3 linked regions of the Homo sapiens genome follow. The protein of the gene in region 1 purifies or fractionates together with the protein of each later gene. This does not show direct contact. Each region holds a gene or a part of one and is shown in the gene's direction. Other genes may lie near its edges.

Region 1 (7,039 bases):
TAATGAAACCTTGTTTCTCAAGTCTTGATTTAGCTACAGGCAGAAAAAAGAAAAAAAAAAAAACAATAGCAACATTCTTGCCTCAACCAGTAATGCACTTTGGAAATACTTTCTCTGAGAAACTTACTCCATCAGTTTGAGGCTGTCACATTGAGAAACATGCAATTTCGGTTTTTTTCCTGTTATTTTTCCCGTGCCATTAATTAAAACTGAGCAGCTACCTCTGTAAATGCAGCGGTTCAAAATGAACTGTGAAAAAGGATTTTTCATTTGTGTTGGATTTCTAATTAGAAAACTGCATTCAAAGTTGCTTAGAGGTGGAAATGTTAACATTTGTGAATAAATGGTACTTGGTGACACACTTATTTTTTCCAGTGCTTGTTTCAGCAACGAACTTAAAACTTCTGAATATATTGTTTTTTTTTAGGTATACCCGAAATCTTGTGGATCAAGGAAATGGAAAATTTAATCTGATGATTCTCTGTTGGGGTGAAGGACATGGCAGGTAAAATAACTATTCATTCACAGATATTTATTAGAGCATGTTTTCTAGCATATGAAAAATATAGTACCAGGCTAGCCACAGGTCTTACAAGTAGTAACAAATCTCATTTTTTTTTTTTTTTTTTTTTTTTTTTGAGACAGTGGTTCACTCTTGTTGCCCAGGCTGGAGTGAAATGGCATGATCTCAGCTCACTGCAACTTCTGCCTCCTGGGTTCAAGCAATTCTCCTGCCTTAGCCTCCTGAGTAGCTGGGATTACAGGTATGCACCACCATGCCTGGCTAATTTTGTATTTTTAGTAGAGATGGGGTTTCACCATGTTGGTTAGGCTGGTCTCGAACTCCTGACCTCAGGTGATCCACTCACCTCGGCATCCCAAAGTGCTGGGATTACAGGTATGAGCCACCACACCCAGCCCTCATTTTCTACTTACTTGTTCACAATGTTCCCTAATCCCAACAAAAATTATCAATGGAATTAGCACAGGGCATTCAGGCATACACTACACATATTAAAACCAGCCCCCAAAATGAATAGTAAATCAAATGAGGTAAGTAACCCCCTTAAGTTAACCATACTCTGTTTTCTGTGCAGTAAAACTTTATGTGAAATTGTGTTTACACTTGACATTTGTGGTGTTTGAGGTGTGTAAACAATCGTGGGACCAAAGACCAAAGGATGGAGATTTGAAGCTAGAAAAGCATTGCAAATTCAGAAAATTTCTTTCTACTTCAAGTTAATTCTTTAGTTTCTTTACTGAAAAGGCAACTTATACTGATTCTTTGAAACTTAGCTCCTTAATTTATCTTTAGTTTCACGTTTGACAGTCTTATTATCAACTAAGTATTACTCTCTTTTGAAACATACCTTTCTCAGTCTTGAGAATGGTAAAAGCAATAATTTAGATCCATTTTTATGAAAGAAAACATGAATTTATAAGTGTTTGGAAAGTTAGGTCTGTAGAGTGCATTTATTTACTCATATGGAATGAAGTGTTTCCATTCATTCTCTCAATATTTTTGAAAGCACATTATGTCCAGAGTGGGACTAGACTCTGTGGATTTAGGAAACAAATTCTTTTTATGGTACATATATAAATTAATAAAATTCAATAGATGAAATGAATACCCAAAATGTATATAGATACATATATTTTAATTAACCCTGTAACCACGACTGCTTCATATACTTAAATACTATTCACTCTGAGATTGCATAAATAAATCCTTTGTTTCCTCAAATCCAATTAACTTTTTCCCACCAATGTTGGAAGGTAATCACAGGTAGAGCACTGTAAATTGACACAATGTTAACATTTTATATACAGTGTAACTTTAGGATGGTAATACACATATAGATACCTTCTCTCCCACAGCTCCCCAAAGGAAGGAGAAAAGACAAAAGCCTTGGGGAAAAAACATTAAATGTTAAGTGGATCTTCTCAGTGTGGTACAATTACTATGGATGATTGTCTTAATCCTTTCTAAAATTTCTCTAATGTACTTTCATAATCAAATTCTAGCCCAGTTTAAGTGAGTTATATGTATTTGGGGGAAGATAAAGTGTTGCTGGTTTTGTGTTTCTGTTATCAAAGTAGTATAACAAAGTTAAAAAAACTGTTCATTAGTAGGGGTATGCATCAAAATTGTACCTTTTATATGAATTGATATAGATGATATATTATTACTTTACCCTGAACATTGTTGAACTGTAAGTTGATAACATTTTAAAAATTCAGCTGAAATGGATTTTGGCTGGGGAGATAGCTTATTGACAGTATGCAGGTGTCAGTTCTGGGAAGACTGTTACTGCAGGTCTGGATACTAGACCATCTACTGAGTTCAGTTGTCATTTTGTGTACATATAGCAGTATTCATGATCATACCAACTCCCACTGCTTTCTGAAGATGCTACAGGGAAATCTAAAGGAGACATTATTTGCCTGGCCTGACAAAAAATCCAATGAGATGGTCAAGAAGTCTGAAAGAGTCTTGAGGGAAAACCAGTGTGCCTACATCAATGGTAACATCTTATTCTTTTTCTAAGGGCAAGTGGGAAGAACCATGACCTTTTGTCTGAAATATTGGTTACTTACACTTTTTATGCAGTAGAACCTGGATCATGAGTCATGATTTAAAATACTTGGGAAATGACTTAAACATAGCAGGTTTTGTTTTTTAAGCCTTTGTATCTTGGTTGGAATCACTTATTGAAAACATATGCATGCAGATCAGTATCCACTGAAAAGTCATTTACTTGCCAAGACTTAAGACAGTTAAAATAAAATATGAATTTACTTCAGTGGAGTCTTTCAACAAAAGAGATCAAGTTGGAAACATTAGCCTTGTGTTAGAAAATAGAACAAAATGTTCTGTAACTAATTAAGAATGCTAGCTAGTCTCTGTTTTTCTAAAATACATATAGCATACCTAAAAAGTATCCTCGAGGGAAATTTTACAAAGCACGTTATTGGCCAGTGATTTATACATATCTTACCAAGAATTCCTTATCTTTTCTAAATGGGATATGGGATAGCCAAATACTTTTCAAGAGAGGCAGTGATTAATTTCCATATTCCTAAAAGGAACAGTAACTTTCCAAAAAGCTCATTAAAATGTATATGAGACAGATAGATAGTTTTTTATTCCCTTTTACGTAGGAGGTTGCCAACACATAGGAAGATTAAACAATTTGTCCAAGGTTACTCAGCTTTTAAGTGGCAACCAGAATTTGAACCTAAGCAATTTGATTGAAAAACCTATGTTCTTCATCAGCATGTACCCCACCTATATAAAGTATTATAGAGCTTTGGGGGATTTTTTTTTGGCAAAGCAAGTTTTTTTCTCCATAAATCTTACTGGCCTCGATATTTGGCCTATATACAAGTCACTTGCAAAGATCAAATTGTATGGGAAGTTGTCGCTCATTCACATAACACAAGGATGTTAGTTTCCTATGTGGCAGGAAGCTCTGATTCATTTACCCAAATAATGTGAGGGTTGCTATCTATAAGGCACACCAGATTTCCAAGAAAATTCTGTTGTCTGTACATTCACAGTAAAGCTTTCAGAATAATTTCAGAAGTAAAGCATTCACACACCTTTCAGAATAATTACTTTCAGCTGGAGTCAGAGTGCTTGTGAAAATAGATCAGATCTTTAAGAATAGGTAAGCTTTTTAAAGGTCTTCAATGCAAAAACCTATAGAATCTCAACAGATAAGGAAGTGGTATACATCAGGGATAAAGCTGTGGTGAGGCCTGGTATGAACTGGAGTATACAAGCCTCATATTAAGGTGACAGCAGTGGCCACCCAGCTCCAGTGAGATCAACCTGGTTTCTTTTTCCATAGAAGTTGGAAATTCTGGGTTTTATATGAAATTTTGCCAATTATTAAAATATTCGGTGGGATATGTTAATTATTTCTGTAGACTAATTACCCAAATAACTTAAAAGCCACAAATTTTCAACCTCTGATTCTTACAGATGCAGGAGTAGGGGTGGAGATGGATAGTGATCAGGGGGAAGGATGTTGCAAGTACAAGGAAGAGCACAAGTGAAGGTACAATTGTTGTAAAAAATGGAAACTATTCAAGCATTGGGGGAAGGAAAGAAAGAAGAATGGGTTTGGTCAGTGGATTAGCAGGAGAGTAAAGTGAGCTCAGGGTATGGGCCTGCAAGACCAGCTAAAAGTAAGGACTTTCTTTGGTCAGCAGAGTTATAATTGGGAATATCTTGATCGATTTGGTGGCAGCATGCAACATAGGGTGGAGGAGAAGGGAGGACTGGGGCAAGGAGACCAAGTTGCCTATTGTAATGAGCAAAAGGTCGACCGGGCCTGGACCTAACTCTGCTTCATAAATACCCCCAAGAAAAGTCCAGTATTACTGTGACAGAGGGTACACCATGACCATAAAGGAAAAAGAAGCAAAGATCAAAATATAATAATAATGCCTGGATTATTAATAGGAGCTTCTCTAAAGGATGGGTGTCTTGTTTTTGCAGGGTCTTTGCTTGCAGGATTGTCAGCATGCATTAGATGATGCGTGGACCTGCAGTGTTGAACATTTGTTCAAAACTGTGCTTTAGCCAGTATATTATGAACACAACAAGCTACAGGATCAAAGAATTTGCAGATCTGAGAATTAGGCACCAGTTTTAGAAATAAGGAAAATGAAAGATCCTAGAATGTGTGGCTTGTTCAAAGATAGCATCGCTAATTACCTAGAAGTAGAACTTAAGTCTTCTGGTTCTATGCTTCATTCTTCTTTATGATGTGCACTCATGGAGCTAGATCATAAAGAAGAAAGCACAAAGCCTCATGGGGTGCCTACATTAGTTATGCTAAATTCATTACTTGATTAATCCCTGAAACTTTCTTGTAACTGTGTAAGTTTATTAACATTTTTTAATTGAGTATTTCATCTCGTTTTTTTGTTTTGTTTGTTTTGTTTTGTTTTTGTGTGTGTGTGTGTTTAATCTTCTTGAAGATCTCTCTCCCAGGGCCTCTTGACTGCTTCAGCACAGATTCGTTGATCTCTAGGCCAGGGGTGAGCTGTGATCCTGAGATTCCTTACAATGTAAGGCTTACATTCTCTCAAGCTTTCCCTTTGCTGTTTCCTGTGGCTGGATCCCCTCTTTACTGATCTCATGATTTTTTTTCATTCTTGGTTGATGCCCTTGTTTTGGTGGAGCATATGCTCCAATGGCTCCACAAGAAAGGATCCATGGAAGGTAAATTTTTGAGACCCCATATATTTAAATATCTCTATATTCAACTCCTACAACTTGATTGATAATTTAGCTGGGTTATGGATTATCACCTGATAAACATCTTCCCTCAGAACCATGAGGGTAATTCCTTTGTCTTTTAGTTTCTAGTGTTCTTATCAAAAGCCTAGGGCTGGCCGGGTGTGGTGACTCACACCTGTAATCCCAGCACTTTGGGAGGCTAAGATGGAAGAATTGCTTGAGCCCAGGAGTTCAAGAACAGCCTGGACAACATGTTGAAACCCCATCTCTACCAAAAATACAAAAATTAGCTGGGCATGGTGGCAGGTGCCTGTAGTCCCAGATACTTGGGAAGCTAAGTGGGAGGATCACTTGAGCCCGGGAGGTGGAGGCTACAATGAGCCAAGATCCCACTGCTATACTTCAGCATGGACAGCAGAATGAGACCCTGTTTTTGTTTTTTTTGTTTTTTTTTAAAAAAACCTGGTCCCATTCTGATTTTTGAATCTTTCTATTTTCTTTCTAGAAACTTTTGGGATCTTCTCTTTTGGTGCCTTCTCTCTATCCTCAGTATTCTGAAATTTCACAGTGATGTATCTTGTTTGATGACTCATTCATTGTGCTGGGTACTCAGTGGGTTTTTAAATCTGGGAATTCGTGTCCTTCGACTCAGGAAAACATTAACAGGTTATTTCTTTGAATTTTTTTTTAATTCTGTTTCTGAAACTCCTATTTAGATATTAAACCTCTTGAACTGTTCCTCTTTTTTTTTTTTCTCTTTCTTTTCTATTTTCTGTCTTTGTCCTTTTGTTCTTTGAGTCTTCCTCAGCATTTCCTGCCAACCCTTTTCTGGTTTCTGTTTCTTCAACCTCTTTTTGTTTTATGGTCCCTTTTATGGTATTTTCTCTTATTTCTAGGAAAACATTAATGATAGGTTTTTGAACACTTCCCCTGAGTAGTCTCTGTTGCAGGTTGCTTTTTTGTTTGCTCTGCCCTCTGTCTTTCATACTAGAGGCCTTGCTCAAATGTCTGGTGACCTTGGCAATGTGCTAATATTTAAAAACCAAGAACAAAAAAATTAATTGGTAACCCTGAACATGAGTGGAGCTTGTCAACTGGATTTCACTTTTTGATAGTCTGGCAGAGACTTTTTCTTCAGGAACTTCCAGCGACAATATCTTTAAAGCTTTTTTCTTGAGCCAATCAGATTCTCTGAGAAGTTGCTTCCTATCTTCTGCCTGGAAAGAAAAATCTTGTCTGGCAGCATTCTCGCAGCTAGGTGATGACTAAAGCAGGGATTTTTACCATTCAGTATGGAAGCTTTTGTTTAATTCACCTGTTTTTCACCTGATTTCCATCAGTCCCAAGTTGATCTCTTACACTCTTTCTAGAGACTAGACCTTACTCTGCTGCTGAAAAGAAAGAAGAGAGAGAATTGGTAAAAGGGTTTTGAGACTCTACTTCATAAACAAGCTTTAAACCAGTTCTTATATCTACAGCCTATCTTTACCCTCATTTCCAGAAGTACCTGGTGCTGTCAATTCCTGTGCTATTTGGAGTTTCAAGATATAAATCAGGTTATTTCTTGGTTTTCTCCATGGATAGCTTAGGATTTAGCTTTCTCTGCTCTGTAAAGCTATCCATCTTACTTTCTAAGCTTTCAAATTTTTGTTAGTGTTTTCTCTTTTCCTATTTTGTCTTTGTATATTGATGTCTTTTTTATTTTTTTACTGCCATTGGAGAGGGTTTTCAGGAAGGAGCAGAGGCTAATGCATGCGTGTCACTTACTATCTTTAACTGCAAGTT
Region 2 (7,039 bases), on another chromosome or scaffold:
TACATTTAGACTATAAACTTTAATTTATTTAGATATTATAGGCCACATCTTAGTGGCCTTACTTTACATCTTAGTAAAAAAAAAAAATTTTTTTTCAACTGAAGTTAAGTTTTACCTTGTTACCAGATTCAGAAGAAGATGTTGTTGAAACTCCTGCAGTGTCTCATGATGAACATACACACCAAGAGATAAAGGGCCGAAAAACACTGGCAACTCCTGCAGTTCGCCGTCTGGCAATGGAAAACAATGTAAGTTCTCTTAATATTTAAGTCTGAGATTGTATAGGAAGTGTACATTTGTATCTCTGAAAAATTAGCCAACTATCCCATGATGAAATAGCTCAATGAAATTAAGGAAACATGAAGATATTTGCTACTGAAAAGCAATAGTTGCATAAAAATACATGGGAGAAATGAGAAGTTGTAAACTTATTACTTACTATCAATTGAGCAGTATGATTTTATTATTCTTTCTTAGAGCCTAATAACAGTAAGAGCTACCATTTACTGAGCACTTGTAAATACCAGGTCTTATGTCAGGTGCTCTAGAGGCACAGCATGAGATAGGAATTTGAAGGAGGGAAAACCTGTAAAGGGACTGAAGGAAGCAAGATAAAAAAGAGAAGAGAAGGGAAATTGGCCAGACATGGTTATGGTATCAAGCATCTGGCCTGTCCCAAAGCTTGCCATGGTCCTAAGTAAAAAAAGAAAGACTCTGGCCTGATCTGAGGGTGCAAGGGAGAACCACAGAATTACTGCTTTGAGGCAAGGAGGCCGGCCTTTTGTATTTCCTCTGCCAGTCATTGACTGAATGGAAGGTGGAATGCCAGGCAGGGTGGCTCCCTGGCACTGGGATAGGTATTTACGTATTCTCATTTAACCCTGTAAGATAAGGAGCTATTTTAAGACTTGGAGGGTTTAAGTAACTAGTCTAAAGTCACACAGCTAACATAGCAAGAGCCAGAATTCAAAAGTGAGTCTATATCACTCCAAAACCTGTGCTGTTAGATGTTATATAAACCTCAACAATCATTGCCTCCATTATTTGAGCACATATGTGCCAGACACTATAGACACATCTGTAATCCTCACAAGGACCCTGCAGGCAGGTTGATTAACTTATCTAAAACCAAGTAAGCTGAACTAGGGATTTGAACACAAATCTGTCTGGTTCTGAAACCTGAATACTTTCCACTGTGCCCCACAATGAGACTTTTTGTTTGTCTCTTTTTGAGAAAAGTAAGGTTGCTGTGGGAAAAAAATAAAAGTTTATATTTTGTGAAATATGTAATAGAGTCATTAAAATGTTCATATTCTTTCAGCCAGTTATCCTGCCACTGGGGAACTATCCCAAGAAAATAATCTAGGAATCATTCTTCCTTGTATTTTATATAGCCAAAAATTAGAAGATGCATACACATTCAAATTATGTTATGTATCCTTGATAAAATGTTATGTAACCCTTAAATGTGTTTAAGTATGAAGACCATTTAGCATAACAGAAAATAGATATAGTAACGTGGAACATTAGGTTATTAAGGGCATCAGATGAAATAATGATTTAACATTTTGCTTTGAAATCTATAAAGCATTTTAATAATTTTTTTCTTAATAATATAGAAAGAAATATATAGAAGAAATGTATGATTTGGCTTTCCTAAAACACTCCCTAAAGATGGGTATAGAATACTTGGGTAGAGTGCTTGTATGATTACTAAAAATTAAATATTGGATTTAGTTATCAGAAATCATCTTTTTTCTTTGAATTTGCATATTTATGAATTGAGTTTGTTTAAAATTAAGAACCAGTGGCATTTACAGTTGTTTGTAACTGCCTAAAAATTATTTGTTTAAATTTTCATAGTCCATTTGTTACAAACTTAGTGTTTGCCTTAGTAAAGTCCTTTATTATTTTAGTCATCCTTAGAGATGCACTAATACAAATGAAATGGGGCCTATCCCTAAGAAATTAATACATACTATATATGAGGAGATCATTCCAAGCTTTTATGTTTATTTTTATTTAAATAGAATTAAATGTTTTGTACTGATCTTTCCAAAGCAACTACCAGAAAAATAACTAATTTGAGAGAGCTTTTGTATTATGATTATTTAAGTTGTTACGTTTTTAACTGGTAGCCAGTGTCAGAAACATTGGTCTAAATTTGGTATAGCATTTAGTTTCTCTTAAATTCTCAGCTCTCCCTCTTCTTATGTAGTCCCCAAGAATAGAAAAGGTCGAGTAAGAATTATGCAAGAGATTTTAAAATACTTGAGTATAAAAATGTAAGTTTTCAGCTGGGCATAGTGGCTCACGCCTGTAATTCCAGCACTTTTGGGAGGCTGAGGTGAGAGGATAGCTTGAGGCTAGGAGTTCAAGACCAGCCAGGGCAACAGAGTGAGACCCTGTCTCTACAAAAAATTTTTTTAAAAAGTAAGTTTTCATAAATAGCTCTAGATTATATATAATATAGATACCTGATGGTTACCACATGCATATGTGAACAGTATATACAAAAGTAATGATTACTTAAGTAGAAAATGAAAAGGTTATTTCCTTTTACTAATTTATTGGACAGATATATTTTACTGTCAGTTGATCAAATTCCATTTTGAAACTTTAATGATGTTTTTAAATAGTTGTATTTTTGGCATTAAAATATATCATTTTTTAGATTAAGCTGAGTGAAGTTGTTGGCTCAGGAAAAGATGGCAGAATACTTAAAGAAGATATCCTCAACTATTTGGAAAAGCAGACAGGAGCTATATTGCCTCCTTCACCCAAAGTTGAAATTATGCCACCTCCACCAAAGCCAAAAGACATGACTGTTCCTATACTAGTATCAAAACCTCCGGTATTCACAGGCAAAGACAAAACAGAACCCATAAAAGGTAATGATAATAATAACAATACTATAAGGCAATAGTTCATTTATTTTGGGGGAAGCTACCTCAGTAGATAAATGTATATAATATGGTGTTTTCAAGTCTTACTGAAGGGAAAGTTCAACTTCAGTCAGCATATAATTTTTCTTTTCTTTTCTTTTTTTTTGAGATGGAGTTTTGTTCTTGTTGTCCAGACTGTAGTGCAGTGGCACGATCTTGGCTCACTGCAGCCTCCGCCTCCCAGGTTCAAGCAATTCTCCTGCCTCAGCCTCCTGAGTATCTGGGATTACAGGTGCACGCCACCATGCTCAGCTAATTTTTTGTATTTTTAGTAGAGACAGGGTTTCATCATGTTGGCCAGGCTGGTCTCGAACTCCTGACCTCAGGTGATCCACCCTCCTCAGCCTCCCACAGTGCAGGGATTACAGGCGTGAGCCACTGCGCCTGGCCATAATTTTTAAATGGTGAAATAGCATAGCTTTTCCAGGAAACACTTACAATTTATGTGTATCATTATCTTCTGAAGAGTAATACGTTAGCAGGTTTCTTGAAATATAAACTTGTATATTGATAATTGCTCTGTTTGAAGACACACAGGACATTTTAAACATTCACTATTTGTAGTTAGCTTTCAAAATAACTAGTTCTGATTTGTTATTTATAAACTCCTGGAATGATTAACTTCCAGAAGAGTGGCTTTGCAGGAAAGCTGTTAGGGAAATACATGGCTTGCATTCTTTTGAATTTTTTATATAACACAGCATTTAAAGCAGTTACCTGCTATGTTATTGCATTTGCCACTGAGTGTCATGATGCAGTCAGTGTTCCAGCTTTGAAATTAGTGACTTTCAGTGTAATGTAATGAAGAGAGTAGTAAGAGGAAGGGTTTAACTGAGAGAGTAAAAGACATTAGAGAACCTTCCATTTTAGTTTCTTTAAAAAAAAAAAAAAGGATGAAGAGATTTGAGAATTTAAATAAATGAATAACAATTTAATGCTTTTCAGGCTTTCAAAAAGCAATGGTCAAGACTATGTCTGCAGCCCTGAAGATACCTCATTTTGGTTATTGTGATGAGATTGACCTTACTGAACTGGTTAAGCTCCGAGAAGAATTAAAACCCATTGCATTTGCTCGTGGAATTAAACTCTCCTTTATGCCTTTCTTCTTAAAGGTGAGATTCATTCATTTCAAACAAGGCTTGAGTAGGACATTTATTTGTTTGTTTGTCTTTTTGAGACAGAGTTTTGCTCTTGTCACCCAGGCTGGAGTGCAATGGCACAATCTCGGCTCACTGCAACCTCCACCTTCCGGGTTTAAACAATTCTCTTGCCTTAGCCTCCTGAGTAGCTGGGAATACAGGCACCTGCCACCACGCCTGGCTAATTTTGTATTTTTAGTAGACACGTGGTTTCGCCATGTTGGTCAGGCTGGTCTTGAACTCCTGACCTCAGGTGATCCACCCCCGCCCCAGCCTCCCAAAGTGCTGGAATTCCAGGCGTGAGCCACCATACCTGGCCCCAAGTAGGACATTTAAATTTTGCTTTGCCAACATGCAATATGTTGACTGTGGCCTTGAATAAAAATATTACTTTTCGCAACATCAGATAGTTAGAAAATGTGCCATTTCTTTGTTCAATAGGAAATTATAAAATTGAGATTTCTGTACTATATTTTTAGCTGCTTATCTTTGAGCTAGGTAGAGACAATTCTGCCAGTTAAGTAAAGCCTCTGATCCTAAAAGGATCACTCCAACCAAGTCTTGGTTTGAACTAAAATGAGACTTGATATTAATTTTGCAATATCACTGACATATATTTAATATTTATTTTCATTTACTCAACCAACTTATATTGAGGATCCTGGGAATCATTTCTAGTGCTAAGCCTTGGGACCAGTATAAAATGGAGTAAGACCATCAGCTAACCTTGAGCAGCATACAGTCTAGCTCACATTAGTGACTGTGCAGCAGCTACCATGTGCCAGCCTCCATAGTAAGCATGCTGTATACATTATCTCTCTCTTTTTTTTTTTTTTTTTTGGTATGAATCTCATTTATTGAAAAGATTATTTCTCACCTTTCTCAAATTGAAGACTGCAAAAAATAAAAGCAGTGCTTCATTGAGTTGTCATGAGCCTGGGGCAGGAGCAGCAGCGCTGCCTCTCCACGCTCCGGGAAACCGCAGCTGGCGTGTGCCACATCGGTCCCACCTCGCTTTACAAAACAGTCCTGAAGCTTAATCAAATAAAACTATTGAACACAACATTTACATTAGAAAAAGAGAGCTGGGTGTAGGAAAGGCCGAGCCTGGTGTTCCCTTTAAGCGAAGGTGGCTCCACAGTTGGGGCATCTTCGCTCCCTCAAGGCAAAACAGCAAATGAACCCAAAGGGGAACAGGATGATGGCCAGGAAGATGCCCAGGAAGGTGAAGCAGTCCTGCAGCCCCCCGACCCTGCAGACGGGACAGCCTCCCACGACCACGATAGAGTTGGTAGGATAGCGGATGACGGTCCAGCTGTGGATGTTGTAGACCCTGGGATGGTGGGTGGGTGTCCGTGTGACGAGGTAGGAGTAGGGCGGCTGCGGGGGCGCGGCGGGGATGGCGCCGTAGCCGTGCGGGCCTCACGCGTAGTCGCCCTGGCCGGCCTCCAGGTTGTAGGCGGGCGGCCGCTCCTGCAGCAGAGTCTTGTGGTCCATGGCGGCCCGGCTCGGCTCTGTCGGCCCCGGCGGGGACGCGGCGCACGCCCCGGGTGGCTCGGGCCCCTCTGAGGCAGACGCGGGGCAGGGCCCATTATCTCTTAATTCTCAGAGTAACCCTGACATGTAAATATTACTGTCTCCACTTTCCATTTAAGGAAATTGGGGCTCAGAGAGGTTGAGAAACTTGTTAAGGACTTACAGCTAACAGGTGGAGAAGCTCTTTCAGGTTCTGGTCTGTTTTACTCAGAAGGACATACTGATGTCTGTAATGCCAACATGTCCAGTCCTTTCTCTACACTGCACCAAGACTGGTCTTCCGTAAATCAAATTACTGTAATATTCTCTGATTCTTTTCAGTGGTTCCCTTTCATTACCTTCAGGATAATTTGTATGCCATACTCCTTAGTGTGGCATACAAATGTGTTATAAGTCTCTGCTGCCTGCCTCTCCATTCTTACCTCACTCCCTCATATTAAGGTACCCATAATTGCTGGAATACACAATTCCACCTGAAGTGCCCGTTCTTCTCGATCAAACACCTGCAAATCCCAAACTGTGGTCAGGTACAGACTCCTTCTGTGGCTGTCACTATTTGAATTAAATACTTTTGTTTCCCACTGTTAACTTATCTCAGTGCATTGAGTGCTTACTCAGTTTTCTCTTCACTTACTCACTTACTGGGCGCTGAGCCTCATGAGGCAGAAACTATTCTTCTTTATCTCCCTTTTTCTTTCTTTCTTCTTTTTTTTTTTAGAAAGGGTTCACTTTGTTGCCCAGGCTGCTGGAGTGCAGTGGCACAATCACAGCTCACTGCAACCTTGAACTCCTGGGTTCAAGTGATCCTCTGCCTCAGCCTCCCGAGAAGCTGGAACCACAGGTGTGCACCACCACACCTGGCTAATTTTTTTTTATTCTTAGTAGAGATGTGTCTCGCAGTGCTGCCCAGGCTGGTCTTACAGGGATGAGCCAGCATGCCTGGCTATTTTGTTTTAAAATAAAACATAAGTTTCAGAACATTCGAAAAAATACTACACAGTATTGTAGAGGGGGAACAAATGACCTAATCCATTGACACATACCTTGTATTTTCTTGGACAAAATTTGGATTATACTCAAATATTTTTATATGTAACAGTTTAGACTAACCTTAGGGGTTTTTAGATAAAGACTATTAAAATTACAGTTATTGAATCAAATGCTTACTAAAACTTTCAAGTTGGCTGGGCGCAGTGTCTCACGACTGTAATCCCAACACTTTAGGAGGCCAAGGCAGGCAGATTGCTTGAGCTCAGGAGTTCAAGACCAGCCTGGGCAACATGGTGAAACCCCATCTCTACAAAAAATACAAAAGTTACCTGGGCATGGTGGCACACGCCTATAGTTCCAGCTACTCGGGAGGCTGAGGCAGGAGGGTCACTCGAGCCAAGGACGTTGAGGCTACAGTGAGCTGAGATC
Region 3 (7,039 bases), on another chromosome or scaffold:
GGTGGCTCTTTTTTTCTTTTTTTTTCCAACTCCCAAAGGCTTGGAAAATTGGTGGCTTTGAGTCCTCTTCTAGGTCCAGTCCTATTTTTCTTTGAAGCTGCCAGCTTCCTGCTTTGGGCAGTTCCCAGGGGAGTAGCACATCAGCATTTCCAGAGAGGCCCTATGTTTGAACAGTTTCTTTTTTTGCAGGGCTTCCAAGTGTTAGTGGAGTCTGACTGGCTGGATTTTGGGCACAAGTTTGGAGATCGCTGTGGCCACCAAGAGAATGTGGAGGACCAAAACGAACAATGCCCTGTGTTCCTCCAGTGGCTTGATTCTGTTCATCAGTTGCTTAAGCAGTTCCCCTGCCTGTTTGAATTTAATGAAGCATTCCTGGTAAGTCCTAAGGCCTGTGACAACAGGGATGGGGGGAATGACAGCCCGAGGCCCCCAGGTGCAAGCTCTCTCTGCTTTCTAGGTAAAACTGGTGCAACACACATACTCCTGCCTCTACGGCACCTTCCTGGCCAACAACCCCTGTGAGCGAGAGAAGCGCAACATCTACAAGCGGACCTGCTCTGTGTGGGCGCTCCTTCGAGCTGGCAATAAAAACTTTCATAACTTCCTCTACACACCCAGCTCAGACATGGTGAGTCTGAGCCCTTTTCCTGTAGGTGCTATTTAGAAACCTATAGGGAGAAGCAGCTGAGTCAGTAGGGAAAATGTAGAGTCAAGGGCTTAGGGAAAGAAAAAGGACAAGGAACTCTTGACAAAGCACTAGTATTGGGCTGCTTCCCTAGGTCCTGCATCCTGTTTGTCATGTCCGGGCCCTGCACCTCTGGACAGCTGTTTATCTGCCAGCATCATCTCCATGCACACTTGGGGAAGAAAACATGGATCTTTACCTTTCCCCAGTGGCCCAGAGCCAGGAGTTCTCTGGCCGCTCTCTGGACAGGTAAGAAAAGCCCTTCTTCCTTTCTCCTCTCTCCACTAGGAAGGCAGTAACTGTTTCCCATCTCATCTAAATGTTCTCTTTCTTTCTTTTTTTTGAGACGGAATCTCACTTTGTCGCCCAGGGTGGAGTGCCAGTGGTGCAATCTTGGCTCACTGCAACCTCCACTTCCCGGGTTCAACTGATTCTCCTGCCCCAGCCTCCCGAGTAGCTTGGATTACAGGCACCGACCACCACGCCCAGCCAATTTTTTGTATTTTTAGTAGAGATGGGGTTTCACCATGTTGGCCAGGCTGGTCTCAAACTCCTGACCTCAAATGATCCACCTGCCTCGGCCTCCCAAAGTGATGGGATTACAGGCGTGAGCCACCGTGCCCGGCCTCTTTCTGAGGTATTTAAAAGCAACTTCTTGAGTCATTTGCAGGAAAAACTTGGCCAAGACTTGTAGCTAGCCTGGAGTGCACTCTGTGTGTTTTCAAGGTCCTCTGAAGATAAGGTTGGATACTTTCTTTCCTGGAGGAGCTGCTATCACTCTGTATGATATACCCAAGCAGGGGAGAGAACAAAACAGAAAGGACTGTTTTAGGAAGGTTTGTGGGAATGGTCTTGATTTTTGTTCACTGGTACAGGGCATGGGGAGCTTGCTATATTAGTAGCAACCTTTGTTGTGTCCAGCATTAGCTTCCAGAAACATCTGACTCTCAGGGAAATGGGTTCCCAGCAGGAGGATGGCCTTATATTACTCCCTCAGAAAAAGGCCAGAATTTAAAAGGGAGACATAAAATTAGGTATCTTCTGGCTCAATGTTTGGGGAGAAGTGAGATGATGTTGGTTAATTTATGAGAGTAATACCTATTTCTTGTTTTAAAAAAATAGTCAATATAAAAGTAGAAAATGAAAATCTTCCCTTATGATCCTTGTCCCCACAGGTGTCCACTGCTAACATTTGGTACGTGTCTTTCCAAATGTTTATCTCTACATAGGTAAATCCACACTCACGCTTTCATATGGAAACATTTTTTATAAACAAAATCAGAATATTTTTACATACGCTTTTTACTTTTTTGCATATTCTGCAAATTGTTTTTCCCGCTTTGTATTAGGTTGTCTTCTCATGACAGCACATCTAAATTCCCTTTCTTGTTTTTATTGGCTTCAGAGTAGTCCACAATTTATATAACCAGATTCCTACTCATCATTTAGGTAATTTCCATTTTTTTTTTTTTTATCATTACAGGGAGTGCTTTACATCCTTATATGTGTAGCTTTTTAAAAATTTGTAAATTACAGGCTGGGCACGGTGGCTCATGCCTGTAATCCCAGCACTTTGGGAGGCCGAGGCAGGTGGATCACTTGAGGTCAGGAGTTCAAGGCCAGCCTGGCCAACATGGTGAAACCCTGTCTCTACTAAAAATACAAAAATTAGCCGGGCATGGTGGCAGGCACCTGTAATCCCATCTACTCAGGAGGCTGAGGCATAAGAATCGCTTGAATCTGGGGGGGTGGAGATTGCAGTAAGCCAAGATCACGCCACGCACTCCAGCCTGGGCAATAGAGTGAGACTCCATCTCAAAAAAAAAAAAAAAAAATTGTAAAATACACATGCTATTTACCATCTACACCATTTTTAAGTACATAGTTTAGTAGGGTTACTTTGTGTGTTTTTTTTTTGTTTTGTTTTTTTGTTTTTGACAGAGTTTCGCTCTGTTGCCCAGGCTGGACTGCAGTGGCACAATCTCAGCTCACTGCAACCTCTGCCTCCCGGGTTCAGGTGATTCTCCTGCCCCAGCCTCTCGAGTAGCTGGGATTACAGGCATGCGCCACCATGCCCAGCTAATTTTTGTATTTGTAGTAGAGACGGGGTTTTACCATGTTGGTCACACTGGTCTTGAACTCCTGACCTCAAGTTATCCACCATCTCGGCCTCCCAAAGTGTTGGGATTACAGGTGTGAGCTCCTGCGCCTGGCCAGTAGGGTTACTTTGTATGCATATTTTTGCATTTGTGCTAGTATTTTTGAATGAAAATACTGTGCTCAAAGGATATATATACATATATACGCGTATATATATATACACATATATGTATATATATCCGTATACATATATACATGTATACGTATATACATAGACATATACATATATGTGTGTATATATGTATACTATATATATACACACATATATACATATATACGTGTATATATGTGTATATATATCTCAAATTTTGATATTTGTTTATTGGCTGAGAGCTTTTTTGTTTTTTAGAGACAGGGTCTTGTTCTGTCACTCAGGCTGGGTGCAGTGGCACAATTATAGTAACCTCAAACTCCTGACCTCAGGTAATCCTTCTGTTTCAGCCTCCCAGGTAGCTAATTAGCTCATTAGGCATGTGCCAATTTTTATTTTTTGTAGAGACGGGTCTGTTGCCCAGGTTAGTCTTAAATTCCTGGCGTCGAGTGATCTTCCTGCCTTGGCCTCCCAAAACACTGGAATTACAGGTGTGAGCCACCATGCCCAGCCTGGCTGAAAGTTTTTAAAGTTAAAATATAACATATGTTATTGGTTGAATATTATAAAGGAAAACAAAAAGCCCAGCATCCCAAATTATTGGTTTTAGGGTCTTTTGAACTAAGTCATTGTGAGGGGACCGTGATAGGTTTCAGGATTTCAGTGATTTTTTTTTTCCTTCCCCAAACTATGCAGAATTTGGCTACAGGTTCATAGGTTTACTTTTCCTGGGAGAGGGGCCATAACTTTTAATCAAATTTTTAATAAGCTCTGTGACCCATTTAATAATCATTTCATTAACTTAGTATCTGATTTATCAATTCAACAAATGTTTCTTTAATACCTACAAGTTGCGTATTACTGTACTAGGTTTTGTGGGCTACAGCAAAGAAATAGAAGATATTGGTTCTACTTTCAAGATAATTTTAAGCTGTAAGATAAGACACAGAACAACTAGAGAGAGCAATTCTTTTTTTTTTTTTTTTTTTTTTTTGAGACAGAATCTCGCTCTGTCACCGGTTGGAGTGCAGTGGCGCAATCTTGGCTCACTGCAACCTCCGCCTCCCGGGTTCAAGTGATTCTTCTGTCTCAGCCTCCCGAGTATCTGGGACTACAGGTGCCCACCACCACACCTGGCTAGTTTTTTGTATTTTTAGTAGAGACGGGGTTTCACCATGTTGGCCAGGATGGTCTCGATCTCTTGACCTCGTAATCTACCCGCCTCGGCCTCCCAAAGTGCTGGGATTACCAGACCCGGCCAACTAGAGAACAATTCTAAGTCAACATCTAAGCAGATAAGAATGTGTGTAGTTCAGGCTGGGTGCAGTGGCTCATGCCTGTAATCCCAGCACTTTGGGAGGCCAAGGTGCGCAGATTGCTTGAGCCCAGGAGTTTGAGACCAACCTGGGCAACATGGTAGAACCCCACCTCTACAAAAAATGCAAAAATTAGCCAGGCATGGTGGCGTGCGCCTGTGGTCCCAGCTACTTGGAGGGCTGACGTAGGAGGATTGTTTGCTCCCAGCAGGTTGAGGCTGCAGTGAGCTGTGATCATGCCATTGCACTCCAGCCTGGGTGACACAGCGAGACCTTGTCTCAAAAAAACAAATGTGTGTAGTTCAAAGCTTTAGAGAAATGATGTGTTTTTTAAAAGGGTCACTTGGTGGCTGTTTTACTCAGGAAATTTTCATGAAGGACCAGACAAGAACTGTGGGTCTTTTTGTGTTCTGTGTATCTGGCTTAGAACCTGGCACGTAATAAGTAAATTTAAATAAATTTACTAAAGTAAAAATTTACTTAAAACTGGACAAATGGCTGGGCGTGGTGGCTCATGCTTGTAATCCCAGCACTTTGGGAGGCCGAGGCGGGCGGATCATGAGGTCAGGAGATCAAGACCATCCTGGCTAACACGGTGAAACCCCGTCTCTACTAAAAATACAAAAAAAAAAAAAATTAGCCGGGCGTGGTGGCAGGCGCCTGTAGTCCCAGCTACTCTGGAGGCTGAGGCAGGAGAATGGTATGAACCTGGGAAGGCGGAGTTTGCAGTGAGCAGAGATCGCGCCACTGCACTCCAGCCCGGGCAACAGAGTGAGACTGTCTCAAAAAAAAAAAAAACTGGACAAATGAATGAAATAAAGGGAGTTGTGAGCTCAGTAACAAGGTTAGTGGAGAGGGGTCCAAAGCAAGTGGATACATGAGAGGTAGGGTTTTCTCGCTCCATTGCCCAGCTGGAGTGCAGTCACATGATCTTCTCAGCTCACTCCGCCCACCGGGTTCAAGTGATTCTTCTGCCTCAGCCTCCCGAGTAACTGGGATTACAGGTGTGTGCCACTACACCTGGCTAATTTTTGTATTTTTAGTAGAGACGGGGTTTCGCCATGTTGGCCAAGCTGGTCTCGAACTCCTGACCTCAAGTGATCCGCTCACCTTGGCCTCCCAAAGTGCTAGGATTATAGGTGTGAGCCACTGCACCTGGGTGAGAGGTAGTTTTTTTTTTTTTAAAAAAAAAAGAAGTTCTGTGGCTGGCAGGGGTTGAGAAGGGGCTATTTTAAGGAATAGTGGAAATATAGGACAGGTCATTGAGGGCATTGAAGGCTTTAAACATTACAGTGAAGAGTTTATTTTGATTCAGTTGTCAATAGGAAGTCATTGTAGGAAGTTACTGTGGTCTGCTGACAGTGGGATCCTTGGAGAACTAATCAGTGAGTACAGGGTAGCTGGAGGCACAGAGACCAGCCAGCACTGCTGTAGTAGTTCAGATATGAGGGGAAGAGTCCCTGGCAAAGAGAAAGGATTAAATTCAGAAGCACTGTAGAGAACCATTGGCAGGCTACAGAATTGAAAGTTGGAGAGTAGAAGTGAAAAGTACTTTGGGTCCCAAGTATCTGAGCTTAAAAAGTAGGAGAATATTAGTACCACTAATAGACATTGAAAGGTCGAGAAGACCAGCCAGTTTGGGGAGAAAGCGGAGATACAGGGAAATTGGGATTGAAATATTAGTTGACAGCAAAGAAGGAGGTGTGTTGTAGGCAGCTCAAGATGGAGAGTAGATTTCGAGAAATAATTGGTATAAAGATTTTAAAGGAAATGGTCTCTGTAACAACTGACCTGACTTACCTTTGATTCTACCTTTCCCTAGATCAAAAATGTCCTTCTTCTTCTCCTTCTTCTCCCCCTCCTCCCCCTCCTCCCCCCTCCTCCCCCCTCCTCCCCCGCTTCTCCTTCTCCTTCTCCTCCTCCTTCTTCTTCTTCTTCCATTAAAGTCATAAACACATTCTTCTATACCCATCTCAAATCCTACCCTCTCTCTGTAGCCTTCCTTGACCTCCTAGCTGGATGAGCTCTCTCTCCTTGTTGTAAACTCAGGTATTATTATCTCTGTCAACATTGCTGACTAACCTTTGGTACACATAGAATGAGTTGTGGAGGATGGCAGAATGTTGTTATTTGAATTTGGATGAAGAGCACATGGAAGTTAATTATATTCTTCTTTTTGTTGTTGTTTGAGACAGAGTCTTGCTCTGTCACCCAGGCTGGAATATAGTGGTGCGATCTCGGCTCACTGCAACCTCTGCCTCTTGCCTCCCAGGTTCAAGCGATTCTCATGCCTCAGCCTCCCAAGTAGGAGCTGGGTTTACAGGCATGCACCACCATGCCCAGCTAGTTTTTGTATTTTTAGTAGAGATGGGATTTCACCATGTTGGCCAGGCTGGTCTTGGACTTGTGGCCTCGAGAGATCTGCCTGCCTTGACCTCCCAAAGTGTTGAGATTATAGGCATGAGCCACTGTGCCCAGCATATTCTTTACTTCTTTTGTATGCTTGAAAGTTTCCATAATAAAAAATAAAATGAAAGAAGTCAGCTGTGGCACTTAAAAGAATACAGATCCCTAGGCCCCACTCTTGGCCATTCTTATTCAGTAGGTCTTGGGTGGACCCTGGTTGTCTGGATGTCTAAGAAGATCCACTAAGATGCCTGATGTGTATCACACATTCAATTGGCACCTAGCAGTGGAAACCTCATGTTGTATTTTGAGCTCATTCATTCATTTCTCAAGTCATTTGCCCCTGGTACTGTGCTAGGCGCTGGGGATTCAAATAAGACA

Evidence for each region.
Region 2: the proteins of CDO1 (region 1) and DBT purify together in Homo sapiens (affinity purification with mass spectrometry; 2 studies listed by BioGRID and IntAct, with this or other methods). This does not show direct contact.
Region 3: the proteins of CDO1 (region 1) and MTMR4 purify together in Homo sapiens (affinity purification with mass spectrometry; 2 studies listed by BioGRID and IntAct, with this or other methods). This does not show direct contact.

The regions. Positions count from the first base shown.
Region 1 is NC_000005.10:115,806,647-115,813,685, reverse strand, and holds part of CDO1 (cysteine dioxygenase type 1), read left to right. Parts: intron 1-427; coding exon 428-505; intron 506-2,370; coding exon 2,371-2,525; intron 2,526-3,988; exon of another isoform or gene 3,989-4,064; intron 4,065-4,992; exon of another isoform or gene 4,993-5,236; intron 5,237-7,039. UniProt on the Homo sapiens protein: Catalyzes the oxidation of cysteine to cysteine sulfinic acid with addition of molecular dioxygen.
Region 2 is NC_000001.11:100,211,835-100,218,873, reverse strand, and holds part of DBT (lipoamide acyltransferase component of branched-chain alpha-keto acid dehydrogenase complex, mitochondrial isoform 1 precursor), read left to right. Parts: intron 1-126; coding exon 127-248; intron 249-2,674; coding exon 2,675-2,891; intron 2,892-3,890; coding exon 3,891-4,057; intron 4,058-4,923; exon of another isoform or gene 4,924-5,651; intron 5,652-7,039. UniProt on the Homo sapiens protein: The branched-chain alpha-keto dehydrogenase complex catalyzes the overall conversion of alpha-keto acids to acyl-CoA and CO(2).
Region 3 is NC_000017.11:58,497,639-58,504,677, reverse strand, and holds part of MTMR4 (phosphatidylinositol-3,5-bisphosphate 3-phosphatase MTMR4), read left to right. Parts: intron 1-189; coding exon 190-375; intron 376-457; coding exon 458-628; intron 629-779; coding exon 780-934; intron 935-7,039. UniProt on the Homo sapiens protein: Lipid phosphatase that specifically dephosphorylates the D-3 position of phosphatidylinositol 3-phosphate and phosphatidylinositol 3,5-bisphosphate, generating phosphatidylinositol and phosphatidylinositol 5-phosphate.